4 linked regions of the Homo sapiens genome follow. The protein of the gene in region 2 purifies or fractionates together with the protein of the main gene of each other region. This does not show direct contact. Each region holds a gene or a part of one and is shown on either strand. Other genes may lie near its edges.

Region 1 (3,857 bases), on a different chromosome or scaffold from region 2:
GGGAGAAACAGTGAGACCCAGGGAGGCAGGACAGGCAGCCACCCCACCCCTGCCTAATACTGTGCTTTGGAGACCTCGTCATCCCCTTTCAGAGCCCCTGAAGGCTGTCTTGATTGTCCCAGCCCTGAACCCAGCTCAGCCCAATCTGCTGAAAGTTTACAGGACTGGACAGGCCAAGGGTGTGGTTCTAGGGACAGAAAGTACTATCTACATACTCTAGGAGTATGTAGAGATTGAGGGACCCACCCCTGTGCTGGGAAGGCTGATCAAGGTGATGGCCACCAGGAGGGTGGGAGGTTCCTGCTCAAGTACCAAAAGCCCAAGTCACACAAGGCAGTGGGGCATAGGGTGGGAAAAGGCCTGGATAGGAGGATGTGAACCACAGAGGGGGAGAGGTGGAAGCTGGAGAAGCAGGTTCTGGTTGGACCAGCAGCCTGGAATGCTGCTCAGCAGTTGAGCCTTTATGGGGAGGGGTTAGACACGGTCAAATTTGGGCTTTCAGGTGCTCAGTAGAGCTGCAGCTGGCAGGAAGACTCACATTTTGAGTGACTAGCTTGACTGAGGGGCAGAAGAGAGGAAGACAGTATTGGGACATTTTTGAAGGCAGCTAGGGGTCTCTGTGGGGCCACTGAGGCAAGGATCGGGGCCCGCATGGTCCTCATGGGCTGGCTTGCTAGCAATCATGAGTGGTCCTGGCCTAGAACTAAGGTCTGGCTTTTAGCATCCTCAAAGGTACACTGAAGACAAAGTAGTAGATAAGGCATCCCCTGTGGGGCCTCCTGTTTCCCCATCTGCAATGGGAGAGGTTCAGAAGAAATGGTCCAGGGCCCCTGGCCACCTCTGCTGTCTCAGGATCTGGGTATTTTGGGCTCCTTGCTGATTGTTCGGGAGGAGGCTGCCAGCAGGAGAGGGTGGAGAGGTCAATAAATGTAACTGACAGACAAAATGTCATGGTTGTGTGGGTCTGCACCATGGTGGCCCTGGCACCTCTCTGAGTTGTCTGGGCTTCAGATCTGCACTAAACTGTACCAGGGAGTTCCCCAATCACAGGGTGGACGGCTGCTCTGCCTAGGTTTTTTGGGGATCTGGCTCAGGTCTGCTGCAGTCAGGCCTCTTGCCCTGGGGCCATTCAGGCCTTGCCCGTGGTCTGGGCCCATAGGCTGCAAAAATTAGCCATCCATCCAAAGATAGTTCTGGAGGTCCTTGGGTATGAGGCCCATGGCCCCTGGGGAGCAGCCTGAGGCCTGCTGAGTGCTGACTGTGATGTGTCCCTTGCCTCTTCATCCTTTTCCACTCTAGCTCCCCCTGTCCACCTCTCTGACTCTAGGAAAGAAGGCTGCCTTTTGGACTCAGCTGGTTAGGAGCTCCATATGGGGCCAGCCTGGAGGAGCTCCTGTATAAGCCACAACCCACCCCTGGCCCCTGGGAGGGGCTTAGAGATTAGAGCAGATACGGGCTAGGCTAGGATTTATCAGCTGTGTTCCTGAGCGAAGAGAACTGCAGAGTTCAGATGAGGTGGCCAGGACATGGCGGGCGGCGGGGCGGGACAAAGGTATGGCTGAGTCTTCTACATCGACCCCTGTGGCCTGAGGCCTTGCGCGCAGGTCAGGGAGCTGTGGGTGCCTTAAGTGAAGGGTACTGCAGCAGCAGGATCAGAACCCTCACCTGGATAAGAGCTCTTCCAGGCGCCAACCTCATGCTTGTAAAACTAGTCTTGGCCCACAAGCCCCACCCAGGACAGGTGACTCCACCCCTCTGTAACAGGTCCCACCCTCTGTGCAGGCCAGGTCGCTTGCAGCCTCTCTCACTGGGGCCCAGGGTGCCCCGGCCCCCCCACATCCCTGCGGTCTGCCGGGAGGAAGCGGTCCCCCTCCCCCACCGTGACTCTGCGCTTCCTGCCCCAGCCCCGGGGCGGGAGGAGACATTTCCCGTTCACACCAAAGTTTTCCTGGCAGCGCCTAGACCTGGGCTTAGCCACTGCCCCTCTTGCCCATGGAACCAGCTCTGGGGCCTGGGGTCCAGGTAACCAGCAAGGGTGGGTGGAGGTTCCCGGGGCAAGGCAGGGCCGCACATGAGGATGTGCGCATGTCTGGGTCTGCCTGTCTAATGGTACACGTGTGTCCTGGGATCCACAGTTAAAGAAGGCTACTGAAGGTGGTGGCTGCTGGGCTGGGTGAAGATGGCAGATGAGGACCCAGCCCAAGGCTCTTGGTAGGGGGTGGCTGCTGTGTGGGACACCTTCTCCAGCCCTAGCACCAGTGTGGGCCACAGCCACACCCCACTTACGCCCCTCCCCTGGCTGTGTCAGACCTGCCTAGGACTGCAGGCATTAGGGAGGTGGGAGCAGAAACTGGGAGGCTGAGAGAAGCAGTGGGGTGCCTGGAAAAGTGGTCAGTATGTACCTAACTCTCTGATGCTGACCTTCCAATGTCCTGCCCTCCCTCCCCCGTCCCCCACTCCCCTTCTCCACACCCTCCACTCTGCCTTTAACCCCTTGTCCATGCCCTCTGTCCACCTCCATTCATTCTTCGCCTCTGTCTACATCCCCTTGTCCCTGCCCTGTTTACTGCATCCCTCCTGCCCCCCACCACTGTTCCCCTGTTCTGCCTACAGAAGGACCTGGGTTACCTGCAGCAGTGGCTGAAGGCCTTTGTAGGTGCCTTCAAGAAGAGCATCTCACTGTCCTCTCTGGAGCCACGAAGGTGAGGCTGGATCTGCACTGAGGGCAGGGACAGAGCAGGGAGATTGAGGGGTCCTCAGCACCCGTGTCTCCCCTTTCCTTGCAGGCCAGAGGAGGCAGGTGCAGAGGTCCCGCTGCTACCACTGGATGAGCTGCATGTGCTGGCCGAACAGCTGCACCAGGCTGACCTGGAGCAAGCCCTCCTGCTGCTCAAGCTCTTCATCATTCTCTGCAGGTGTCTCTGTTGTCCACTCTACAAGCAGGGGCCTAGAACTGTGGGCCAGAGGGAGAGGGGACAAGGAGGGGCATGGTGTATTATTGTGACCTCTCTCATCATTGACTCCCCCAGGAACCTGGAGAACATAGAGGCAGGCCGGGGCCAAGTGCTAGTGCCCCGAGTGCTGGCACTGTTGACCAAGTTGGTGGCGGAGGTGAAGTGGCCTCTACCTTGGGGGGCAGAGGGTGTATGCAGGGAGGCAGGCGGTAGCCATGGCGGGGCTAACCCTCTCTCCCCACACCTACAGCTGAAAGGATGCCCACCACCCCAGGGCCGAGGCACGCAGTTGGAGAATGTGGCCCTACATGCTCTGCTTCTCTGCGAGGGCCTCTTTGACCCTTACCAAACCTGGCGGCGCCAGCGCAGTGGGTGAGACCCAGCCCACAGGAAGGGAACCCAGAGGAGGGTGGGGAGAGGATGGCCGCGCTGGGCCCAAGGAGGGGTGACGGCCAGGAGTGGTGAGAGCCGGGCTGATGTACTTGGCCTCACTGCCCCCAGGGAAGTCATCAGCTCCAAGGAGAAGAGCAAATACAAGTTCCCTCCTGCTGCTTTGCCCCAGGAATTCAGCGCCTTCTTCCAAGGTCAGGCCCCGCCCCTGCCCCCACTTGGCTCCACCCCCAAACCTAGGCCCCTTCCTGTCGTTCCTTGATCCTGCCATACACAGGAACCACTTGGTGGTGGCTGCATGCAGGACTGGGAGAACCAAAGACCAAGCAAGAGTTTAGGGACAGAGACAAGAGAAGACATCTTGGGCTGGAGCGAGGGCCTCCCATCAGGTGGAGGGGTGGGGTCAACCTGCCTACCCAGATTTCTCATCCTCTTTCCCCGCCATCTCCTGGATCCTTCTAGCCACTTGTACCCTACTGTGATCTTAAAACTCTCTGGTCCAATCCCTTTGTC
Region 2 (3,857 bases):
AATGTAGAAACTTGGCCTTTTTTTTTTCTTCCATTGATACATCCCCTATACCTGGAACAGTACCTGACGCATGGTAGGTGCTTAAATTTTTACTGATAAATGTTGACTGATAACTGGAGGCACCACTGGTATAGTTTTTTTTTTTTTTTTTTTTTTTTTTTTTTTTTGAGACAGAGTCTCACTCTGTCGCCCAGGCTGGAGTGCAGTGGCGCAATCTCGGCTCACTGCAAGCTCTGCCTCCCAGGTTCACGCCATTCTCCTGCCTCAGCCTCCTGAGTAGCTGGGACTATAGGCGCCCGCCACCACACCCGGCTAATTTTTTTGTATTTTTAGTAGAGACGGCGTTTCACCGTGTTAGCCAGGATGGTCTTGATCTCCTGACCTCGTGATCCGTCTGCCTTGGCCTCCCAAAGTGCTGGGATTACAGGCGTGAGCCACCGTGCCCGGCCACCAGTGGTATAGTATTAATGGAATCAGTGCATTGGCTTACGTATCTGATTACAGCTCAGTAAGTGTGTGACCCTCACTGAGCCTCAGTCTCCTCATCTGAAAAATGGGAATGACCTTCATTTCACAAGGCTTGAGCTAAAAACATGTAAAGTGTATTGTAAATTCCTGAATGCTCTACTCATGTAAGACTAAAGTAGGCCGGGCGTGGTGGCTCACACCTGTAATTGCAGCACTTTGGGAGGCCGAGGAGGGCAGATCATGAGGTCAAGAGATCGAGACCATCCTGGCTAATATGGTAAAACCCTGTCTCTACTAAAAATACAAAAATTAGCTGGGCGTGGTGGCGCACATCTGTAGTCCCAGCTACTCAGGAGGCGGAGGCAGGAGAATTGCTTGAACCTGGGAGGTGGAGGTTGCAGTGAGCTGAGATCGCGCCACTGCATTCCAGCCAGTCTGGCGAAAGAGCAAGACTCTGTCTCAAAAAAAAAAAAAAAAAAAAAAAAAGACTAAAGTACATGGTTTCTTCAAAGCTTCTCTCTCTTTCTCCCACCTTAGATGATTTTTCCTTTGCAATGTCCTGTGTCCATTCCGCCCCACTCCTCCTGGGGCCACCTGGACCAGGTCTTCATCATCTCATATCTATATGTTTGCTGTGTCTCCTGGCTGGCCACTCTTCTGTAATTTCTCCTCCTCTGAGCTCTCTGGGCAGCTGAATCTTCTCACTAGTGAAGTCGCCTGGTTGGATGCTGATGAGACTGACCAGCTGAATCCAGTTGAAAACTTCACACTTGGCAGTGATCTGGTTCTAAAGACACAATTTTCCATAGTTTCCTAACACCATCCTGCATGCCACCTGCCTTATTTCCCCACATCACATCGTCCCACTTAGCGGGACTGCACTGCTGATCCAAATTTTACATCCTTTAGGGCCCACTCAGGTCATATGTCCTCAGGGAAGTCTTTCTGGAAGAACCTTAAACCAGAGGTTCTCAACAGGGGGCAGTTTTGCTCCCTGTGGAACGTTTGCCAATGTCTGGACACATTTCATTCGTCACAAACGGAGAGGGGGATGCTACAGGGATCTGGCGGATAGAGGCCAGGGATGCTGCTGAACATCTGCAATGCATAGGACAGCCCACCCCCACCCCCACACCCCCAGTAAATAATGATCCAGCCCAAGTGTCACTGGTGCTGACGTTGAGTAACCCTATCTTAAGCTGAACTCATCATCTCTCCATTCCAGCCTTGGTGGATTCTGTCTCCTCTGAACCATTCCCATCTCACTTTAGCCTACCTAGATCACAAAGCTTGGCACTCATTATAGACTCCCCTATTTATTACTCCTTCAAGATGTGCAAGAATCTTTTCTCTGCACTTTTAAGTTCTGTAAGAAGAGTCTGTGTCGTTCCTATAATAACCAGCATAGGACGTTGCACGTGTTGTGTGCTCAGTGAACCTGGATTTGTTGATTGTTGACTGACTCACTCTAGAGTTGGAAATCTTATGCTTGGGGAAACTTAATATCTCTTTCTTTCTCTGTGTGTGTGCATTTGTGCACGTGTCTGTGCATAGCTGTGAGACCAAAGACCTGGTTGTGCAACAGGCAGGCACAAACAAGACTGATGTTGTCTGTGGTGAGTCCTGGACAATGGGCCCTGGAGAAAGCCTAGGAAGGTGGGAACTGAAGGGGGAGATGAGGCACACAGGAACACTGGATGGGAAAAAGGGGAGGGGAGGCAGTTTGGGGGTGTGGTATCACAGCTCTGCCACTTATCTTGGGAGTCTGGGCAAATCACTTCCCCTCTCTTAGCCTCAGTTTCTTCATCTGTAAAATGGGATGATAACAGCACTTCCTTAGTAGGTTTTGATTTTAGAGTGAGAAGGTTGGCCTACAGTAAAGATCAGATAATGTAAATCAGTGAAAAAGGTCAGGGGTAAGAAAATTACATTCTCTTTACCTAACGCTAAATGACCAGTTAATGGGTGCAGCACACCAACATGGTACATGTATACATATGTAACAAACCTGCACATTATGCACATGTACCCTAAAGCTTAAAGTATAATAATAATAAAATTTAAAAAAACGAAAAATACATTCTCTTTGCTTTTTCTCAAAATGTACTTTCCTCTTTGTAGGGCTGGGACTAGAATGAGGTGAGCAAGGCACTTGCCCTCGGGCGCAATATTTAAGAAGGTGCCATAAAAGTGTAGTAATCAAGGTAAATTCATTTTGATGCAATATTTTTAAAAATAAAAATTAATGCAAAGAAATCCATGATGAGCAAGATAGCAACATTTTAAATAAAGAACAGGATCCGACCCTGTGTTTGCATGACCCTGCCTCACTCACCTCACCCTAATCCTGGCCCTGGTTCCAGTAAAAGGAATAGGCAGCCAGCCTGCAGGCCGTAGTTTGCTGACTTGGTGTCCGCCTGATGATTTTCAAAATATGGCATTAAAAGAATGTTTACCTTGATGACTGAGTGTTTTGGACATCCTTTTCAATTTTGTCCTGAAACAATTTCATCCCTTGCCTCACGCTAGTCTCCGCCCTGCCTTTTGGTCTTTCTTTTATTTTCCCACTTTGAAAAAAAAATTCGGCATGAGAAATACTTTACCTTTCCCCTCCACTCTTCTATACCAAAAGCAACATGCAGACATGAATCATGCTAGACCTCGGCATTGGGCAGAGAGCAGGGAGTGGCGGGGAGCATGGTGAGCAGGTGGTGACAGCCACTGCCACCACTCGCTTCTAGATGGTTCCCAGGTGGGGAGGCTGCCAACTGGAACCCAGTCTTCCCAGTTTGTAAGAGAAATCAGATGTCTAGGTTTGAATATGTGATCTCCCAGTTTAAAAATGTCGGCAAATATTTCCAAACGTTAAGAAAATGTTCTGGCTCCTTTAAAGACATCTGCCAGCCACATTTCCCCAAGGACCGCGGTTTGAACCTTCTGATGTAGATGAGCTCTGACATTGGAAGATTCTGGAGTCTGACAAGTCACAGCAGGTTGAGGGTAGGGAGAAACTGCAGGTGAGGGGTGCATGCTGAAGTCCTGATTTCTCCAGGTCCCCAGGATCGGCTGAGAGCCCTGGTGGTGATCCCCATCATCTTCGGGATCCTGTTTGCCATCCTCTTGGTGCTGGTCTTTATCAGTGAGTCCTCAGGTGGGGAGGTGTTGGGGGAGGGAGGGGAGACCACCTGTTTCTTATCTGGCCTCTCCAACTCCCCATCCTTTTTTTTTTTTTTTTTTTTTTTAGAAAAGGTGGCCAAGAAGCCAACCAATAAGGTAGGTCACCCCTGAGAACCCGGGACAGAGTTTTGACAAACTGGGAAGATGGCCTCACGGTTGCCTATGGGGCAGTAAAACTGATTCAGAGTCTGTCTCTGCAGCCAGTGGGGTGG
Region 3 (3,857 bases), on a different chromosome or scaffold from region 2:
ACATAGTGAGACCCTGTCTCTGCAAAAAGTAAAAAAAGGAAAAAAAAATTAGACCAGAGTGGTGGCGCATACCTGTAGTCCCAACTCTTCAGGAATCTGAGGCAGGAGGATTGTTTGAGCCCAGGAGGTTGAGGCTGCCGTGTGCCATGATGATGCCACTGCGTTCTAGCCTGGATTACAAAGCAAAACCCGTCTCTTAAAAAAAAAAAAAAAAAAATTAAAGATTCCCAACATTAAGTCAGACAGATAAGAAACTGTTTATAAGAAACTAAGAACTATATTCATATTAAATTATGACGTTTAATCTGAGTTTTTTTTCTTTTTTCTTTTTCTTTTTTTTTTTTTTTGAGACAGAATCTCACTCTGTTGCCCAGGCTGGAGTGCACTGGTGCATCTCGGCTCACTGCAAGCTCCGCCCCCTGGGTTCATGCCATTCTCCTGCCTCAGCCTCCCGAGTAGCTGGGAATACAGGCGCCCGCCACCACGCCCAGCTAATTTTTTGTTTATTTAGTAGAGACGGGGTTTCATCTTGTTAGCCAGGTTGGTCTCGATCTCCTGACCTCGTGAGCCACCCGCCTCGGCCTCCCTAAGTGCTGGGATTACAGGCGTGAGCCACTGTGCCTGGCCTTTTCTTTTGTTTAACTTGGGGTCGGAAAACAAATTTTTTCTTCATCTTTTAGTACATTGCTTGGGAAATAATTGTCATTACACAAATAGAAAATGTTTGTCAAACTGAAAGCTGCCATTCTTAAGCTAGAATTTTTTCCTTCTATATATTTCATTAGTAAAGTTTCTTTTGGTATGTTATTTCTCTTACCACTTCATGTGATTCTCAGAGACTAGCCCATTGCTTTCAGTTATAGGATACTTTTACAACGCATTTATTAATATGACAAATGTTTTGCCGTTACCAGATGTGATGTTTGAGCTCTTCTTTTTAAGATTTGCACTTACATAATTTACATAATTAGCTATTTGTCTTCTAAAAATGTTATCTTTAATGTTTTTAGATTCATAAACATACAGTTGTTAACCAGAGAGATTACTGGTGATTTTAAAACTTTAAAAAATTTCATTCCTTTAATTTTTAAAAGTTTCTTTTATGGAGAAGTTTAAACATATTAAAAAATAGAATAATATAATGAGCCCTTCATGATAAGCTAGTTTATTAGTTATCAACTCATGGCTACTTTAGCTTCCTGTAAACATCTCCCAGTGTTGATGGTTATCTGAGATGACACATCCTCTGACCATATTTCAGTGTGTATATTTATAATGTTCCTTTTAAAACACCACACAATACCTTAAAAATTTAATTAAAAAATTTAAATATTGTGAACGATCTAGTGATTAAATTCCTTTTTAAAATTTAAATAAAAAATTATTTTAAAAAATTTTTTGTGGGTACATAGTAGGTGTACATATTTATGGGGTACATGAGATGTTTTGATACCAGCATGCAATGTGAAATGATTCAGTACTTTTAAGAACCAAACAAATCATTTTTTTAAATGTAGCTAATGCTAATTTCTGTTACCGCTTGTGTTTGTTAAGAGAAAGGCTACTTTATTTGGCAAATTGGAGTTCCTGTTTTTGCTTATTATATCATTGCTAAGAAAATACATAATAGCTACTCGGGAGGCTGAAGCAGGGGAATCGCTTGAACCTGGGAGGTGGAGGTTGCAGTGAGCCGAAATCACACCACTGCACTCCAGCCTGGTGACAGAGTGAGACTGTGTCTCAAAAAAAAAAGAATCTTGGGTAGTCAGCCATTTATAGTACTGAGCTATAAATGAGTGGCTACAGAATGCTTTTTAAATTTAAGGTATGATTAATTTAAAATGTACACTTTGCTTGCCATAGTTTTAAGTTTTTGAATGCGTAATGACAAATAATTGAAATGAAATCAACTTTCTTTTATTAATTATAATTCGATTTTGTTTTCCTTTGTGTTGGTTATAAAAAAATGGTAACCTTACTTTTTTTTTTTAACAAATCAAAAGTTGGAAACATTTTCAAAGTTTTAGAATTTTAAGATTAAGTATTTGCTTTATTAAAGAATTAGTCAATATAGTATGCAACTGTTTTGATGAGAAATTTGTATTTTTCCCTCTCCAGCCATGCACTGAAGTATTATTTATAGATATATTCCATGAATATAATCAGACTCTTACTCCTGTACTTCTAGAAATGATGCAAACACTTCAAGGTAAGGCATATTTTGTGATTAACTTTGAGTTAATCTCTTTAACGTTTAGTTAAGAAATAGTCTGAGTGCCTACAATGCATACTGTACTGTTTCCTGGGTCATATAATAAATATGAATTTGAGAAAAACAATTTTAAAACTTATTATCTTCCAAGGGGGTGGCATTTGAGATAGGCCTTGAATTATAGTTTGGACGATGATAAATTTTCCTGTAGTAAATACAATAGAAGCAAAAGCAAAACAGTAGTCATACTGCTTGCAGAAAGTCTATCTGGAGCGTGTTGTGAGAAATAGTGAGAAAAGGTTAAAATAGTGTTAGCCTCTCTTAGAATGGTGGCAGTGGGAATGGAAATAATTGATTATGGATTTGAGAGAAAATGATGATGTAAATTTTTGACACTTGGTCATTACACTTTGTACACAAGTAACTAATTATCTGCCTATTAACTAACATTGATTTATGATTTCTGTCTTTTCTGCTAGACTGTAAGTCCTAGGGGCATTGATCACGTCTGTTTTGTTTATATTTTATTCCCAGTGCTGGGCATATTCAGTAACTATTGTTACTTGATTGACTTTTAGCAACCGATTGAATGTGCTAGGCAAGGAAAAGTGATCAAAGATGATCCTAAACTTTTGAGCCTTAATGACAAGGAAACAGTTACCTCATTAGAAGTGGTAGGAGATAGAGATATACTTTCGGAGTGCATGTATGTAAGGAGCCTTGGGAAAAGAAAAGAGGATCTTAAGGACAGAACCTGAGATTTTCACCTATAGGGATATGAGTAAATAAAAGCCTTGTAAAAATGCCAGGTGTAGTGGTGTATCCTAGAGAAGAGCATGTTGTCAGAATGAGTGTTGGCCAGGCATGGTGACTCACGCCTGTAATTCCAGCACTTTGGGAGGCTGAGGTGGGCAGATCACTTGAGCCCAGGAGTCCCAGACCAGCCTGGACAACATGGCAAAAACCTGTCGCTACAAAAATTAGGAAAATTAGCTGGGCCTGGTGGTTAGTACCTGTAGTCCTAGCTATTCAGAAGGCTGAGGTTGGAGGATCATTTGAGCGCAGGAGGATGAGGCTGCAGTGAACTGAGAAAACCTCACTCCACTGTACTCCAGCCTGGGTGACAAAGCAAGACCTTGTCTCAAAAAAAATAATTTTGTGGTATATAGCACATTAGCATTTTGTGGTGTATATTTTCTAGAATATTGCTTGTCATAACATTTTTCAAATATGCTATAATGGTTTTTAATCCTGTGTTCTCTAATGATAATCATAAAACTTAGACTTTCCCTTTGTACTTGTGTCCATTTTTGACACCATGAAATGTGTTATACTTAATTGAATTGGGAAACTAACAAATTGTGTTTAAATATAAATTTTTTAAAAAACTAGTTTTATTTGCTTTTACTGATACCTATTTATATATATATTTTTTAGGACCCACAAATGTGGAAGATATGAATGCACTGTTAATCAAAGATGCTGGTATGTTAAACTTAAGTGATTTAGAAGCATTTATTTATTCAGTAGATGGAGAGTCTGTTTTGTGGTAGATTTTGTGCTGAGGGTGTTGAGATACAAGAGTAACTAAAATACAGGAACAATCTGATTGGGGAGATAACCAAGTAAACAGATAATGTATTAT
Region 4 (3,857 bases), on a different chromosome or scaffold from region 2:
CAAAAAAAAAAAAACAACAAAAAAAAATACATATATATATGATGTTAAATACATCAGAATAGTGGCTATTCAGTGAATATACAAATATGGTTGATTTTTATCCTTATATTTCAAATCCATACAAAGGCACATAATGTTAACTTACAAGCATACAAAATTAGGCCAGGCGCGGTGGCTCACGCCTACCATCCCAGCACTTTGGAAGACCAAGGCAGGCGGATTATTTGAGGTCAGGAGTTCAAGACCAGCCTGACCAACATGGTGAAACACCATCTCTACTAAAATACAAAAATTAGACGGGCATGGTGGCAGGCACCGGTAATCTCAGCTACCCGGGAGGCTGAGGCAGGAGAATCGCTTGAACCCAGGAGGCGGAGGTTGCAGTGAGCCGAGATTGTGCCACTGCACTCCAGCATGGGTGACAGAGTGAGACTCCCTCTCCAAAAAAAAAAAAAAAATTAGTATTTTCCTAAAGAACTTCTGAAAATAAAATTAAGAATAACACCTAGGGCTGGGCTCGGTGGCTCACACCTATAATCTCAGCACTTTGGGAGAGCAAGGTGGGTAGACCACCTGAGGTCAGGAGTTTGAGACTAGCCTTGCTAACACAGCGAAACTCCATCTCTACTAAAAATACAAAAATTAGCCAGGTGTGGTGGCACATGCCTGTAATCCCAGGAGGTGGAGGCTGCAGTAAGCCGAGATCCCTATCTTTTTTTTTTTTTTTTTTTTTTTTTTTAAAAAAGGCCAGGTGCCGTGGCTCACACCTATAATCCCAGCACTTTGGGAGGCGGGCGGATCATGAGGTCAGGAGATCAAGACCTTCCTGGCTAACATAGTGAAACCCCGTCTCTACTAGAAATACAAAAAATCAGCCGGGCCTGGTGGCGGGCGCCTGTAGTCCCAGCTACTTGGGAGGTTGAGGCAGGAGAATCGCTTGAACCTGGGAGGCAGAGGTTGCAGTGAGCCGGGATCACACCACTGCACTCCAGCCTAGGTGACAGAGCGAGCCTCCGTCTCAAAAAAAAAAAAAAAAAAAAAAGAAAGAAAATGAGCTCCAGTTTTTCTGTCATTTCCTAGTTTTTTATTTTTTTGCTTATAAAATAGGATTTCATTTTGCTGACCTAGACACCCTAGTTCCTTACTGTAAGATTAATCAAAAACACTCATATTGGAAAATAGAAATGTTATAGGTAGGGGTATCCCTTACCACTTGCTGATACTTGTTTACATTTTCTTGAAGTGTGTTAAGCAGAAAACTGAAGATCCTTTCCATGTTCTGGGTTAATGTTTGCTGGATGTCCCTTCTTCTTTGAGGGGGAAGTGTCTGAAAAGTCACTACATCCTCTGCCAGTCGCAAAAGGATAAACATCACCAATTCTGTCTGTGTTTCCTACACCAATAGAAATAAGCTAGTTAAAAACTAAAATATCTTTTCATTTTATGTATATCCAAAGGCTATTTTCTGTTGCCAAAAAAAAAAACCCACAAACAAAATCAAACAACAAACCCTGAAGTTTGTTCCAAGGAAAAGTATACCAAACTGATATAGCTGTGTTTCATACCCCTTGTTTGGAAAGAGTGTCCAATTCTATTAGCATGTCAGGCCAATGCTGTGGCCACTCTCGCTTGATCATTTCCACTACAATTCGAGACAGAGCATCTTTAATATGGTTCTCCTCTTCCAAAATGTTCAATGTTCCCTGAAAAAGAACAAGAGATATTAAGAGATATGCAAGACTGGATTCCAGACTTCCAGAAAAAAGCTGGGCTGTAGAGTTGTAAAAAATTTATCAGCAGGCCTACTTTTAAACCAAACAGAACAAATGAACCTGTTCTTCAGCCTGAGTCACTTGTCCTGCATTCTTGCTAATCACTCTTCCGCTTAAAGCTTAAGTGAGGGTTGCATCACCTAAAAGGCTGTCATATCGAGAGCTAGGATGACATCATTATTCTTTACAAAATGAAAAGATTCTCATATTGATTGTTTCAGTTTGCAGAAGGCCAGGGAGGAAGAGTATAGAAATAAGGAGTATAGTGAGTAGCTGGTAAAATGGAAGGGTATGAAGGGGCAAATGAATATTTTACCAATAGTTCTAACACTAGAAGACGCAGAAGTATTAGAAGATCCCATCTCTCATGTCTGTTATTTAAAAAAAACCAAGAAAGAAAAAAGGCTACAATTTTGAACATGTTTAAAGTCATATTCTGTTTTGTGTTTAAAGAGACAGTCATCCAGTCATCACACCTGTAATCTCAGCATTTTGGAAAGCCAAGGTGGGAGGATTGCTTGAGGCCAGGGGTTTGAGACCAGACTAGCCTGGGAAACACAGTGAGACCCTGTCTCTCTAAAAACCAAAAACAAAATTAGCTGGGCATGGTACCACATGCCTATAATCCCAGCTACTTGGGAGGCTAAGGCGAGAAGATCACTTGAGCCCAGGAGTTCGAGGCTGCAGTGAGCTATGATCATGCTAATGCAATCCAGCCGGAGCAACAGAGACTCTGTCTCAAAAAAAAAAAAAAGTCATATTCTAATACTTGAAACAAATTCATTCTGCATACTTAAAATTCTGCATGTTTTTCATCATTAGTATCACATAGTAGTTGTTTGGAATAAAAGAAAATAGTGTTTCAATCTAATTTAGATCTAAGAATCTTATTGATTTGTTGAAAATATTTAATCCCCTCTGCCCTGTCTTTATAATTTAAAAAATAGAAGTCAATACATAAGCATGATTAATTAAACCTAGTAAGAGACATATGCTGAATTATGCTTTCTGCTTTTGTTTTGTTTTGTTTTTGAGATAGGGTCTTGCTCTGTTGCACAGGCTGGAGTGCCATGGCACCATCACAGCTCACTGCAGCCTGGACCTCCTGGGCTCAGAAAATCCTCCCACCTCAGCCTCCTGAGTAGCTGGGCCACAGGCATGCGCCACCACGCTCAGCTAATTTTTGCATTTTTGGTAGAGATGGGGTCTCACTGCATTGCCCAAGCTGCTCTCGAATTCTTAGATGCAGGTGATCCTCTTACCTTGGCTTCCCAAAGCGCTAGAATTACAGGTGTGAGTCACTGTGCCTGGCCTAAATTATGATTTCTTGTGCTGTCTGACCTATTTAGAAGCAGTGAATTTTTACACAAACTCCCTATTGAAGAAGTCACGCTTTGCCTAAACTACCTTGGAAACATGTCTCCCAACCACCCATTCCTTACATTTGCAATCAGCTCCATGACACTGTTCTTCAGATACACCTTCTCCAATCGAGACATGCCGTTCCACCGAAACCTGACCACCAAAATGCATAAAGTCAATAGAACCACTTTAGAAGTCTTGTCTTTACAAGAGAATAGCATGGATTTCTACATTTGATTACACTGGAGATTTCATTAAGAAATTATACTTTTGATTTTGTACCTGTCAATGAATGGGCAAAAATGATCTACATTTAACCAAAATACTAACACAAAAATTCTTGGGAAAAGGTTTTATATATGCAGTGGTCCATTAACTGGAATCCGCACAAGATTTGTACCACACGTCAGCTTTGCCTCATGATTTTATTGATGGGCCAAAAGTGAATATACATCTAGGTCAACTGCAACAATGTACTTGCTTTTCAGAAAATGCAGTTTTGACATCAGTCATTTTCTGTGCTGGCTTACAAAACAATTCTGGAAAAACTATGGCTAAGTCTTAAAGGCTACCTCTTCTGATAGGTGTTGAGGGTAGGACAATCAAGTTAGGATGGGTTTTCAGTTATTCTCATACAATCCTGCTTTGGATGTACCACCCAGAGAAGGCACACAAACTCAGAAAGACAGAGAGAAAAAAGAAAGCCACAGTGCCTAATCAGAG

Evidence for each region.
Region 1: the proteins of CD40 (region 2) and NBEAL2 purify together in Homo sapiens (co-immunoprecipitation; 2 studies listed by BioGRID and IntAct, with this or other methods). This does not show direct contact.
Region 3: the proteins of CD40 (region 2) and IPO11 purify together in Homo sapiens (co-immunoprecipitation; 2 studies listed by BioGRID and IntAct, with this or other methods). This does not show direct contact.
Region 4: the proteins of CD40 (region 2) and XPO5 purify together in Homo sapiens (co-immunoprecipitation; 2 studies listed by BioGRID and IntAct, with this or other methods). This does not show direct contact.

Annotation. Positions count from the first base shown.
Region 1 is NC_000003.12:46,986,056-46,989,912, forward strand, and holds part of NBEAL2 (neurobeachin-like protein 2), read left to right. Parts: intron 1-1,934; exon of another isoform or gene 1,935-1,992; coding exon of another isoform or gene 1,993-2,022; intron 2,023-2,306; exon of another isoform or gene 2,307-2,390; intron 2,391-2,613; coding exon 2,614-2,702; intron 2,703-2,786; coding exon 2,787-2,915; intron 2,916-3,029; coding exon 3,030-3,111; intron 3,112-3,204; coding exon 3,205-3,326; intron 3,327-3,455; coding exon 3,456-3,538; intron 3,539-3,613; exon of another isoform or gene 3,614-3,857. UniProt on the Homo sapiens protein: Probably involved in thrombopoiesis. Plays a role in the development or secretion of alpha-granules, that contain several growth factors important for platelet biogenesis.
Region 2 is NC_000020.11:46,124,618-46,128,474, forward strand, and holds part of CD40 (tumor necrosis factor receptor superfamily member 5 isoform 1 precursor), read left to right. Parts: intron 1-2,022; coding exon 2,023-2,084; coding exon of another isoform or gene 2,085-2,124; exon of another isoform or gene 2,125-2,544; intron 2,545-3,361; exon of another isoform or gene 3,362-3,520; coding exon 3,521-3,607; coding exon of another isoform or gene 3,608-3,619; intron 3,620-3,712; coding exon 3,713-3,741; intron 3,742-3,857.
Region 3 is NC_000005.10:62,485,653-62,489,509, forward strand, and holds part of IPO11 (importin-11), read left to right. Parts: intron 1-2,118; coding exon 2,119-2,209; intron 2,210-3,649; coding exon 3,650-3,697; intron 3,698-3,857. UniProt on the Homo sapiens protein: Functions in nuclear protein import as nuclear transport receptor. Serves as receptor for nuclear localization signals (NLS) in cargo substrates.
Region 4 is NC_000006.12:43,569,292-43,573,148, forward strand, and holds part of XPO5 (exportin-5), read right to left. Parts: intron 3,288-3,857; coding exon 3,215-3,287; intron 1,704-3,214; coding exon 1,566-1,703; intron 1,394-1,565; coding exon 1,211-1,393; intron 1-1,210. UniProt on the Homo sapiens protein: Mediates the nuclear export of proteins bearing a double-stranded RNA binding domain (dsRBD) and double-stranded RNAs (cargos). XPO5 in the nucleus binds cooperatively to the RNA and to the GTPase Ran in its active GTP-bound form.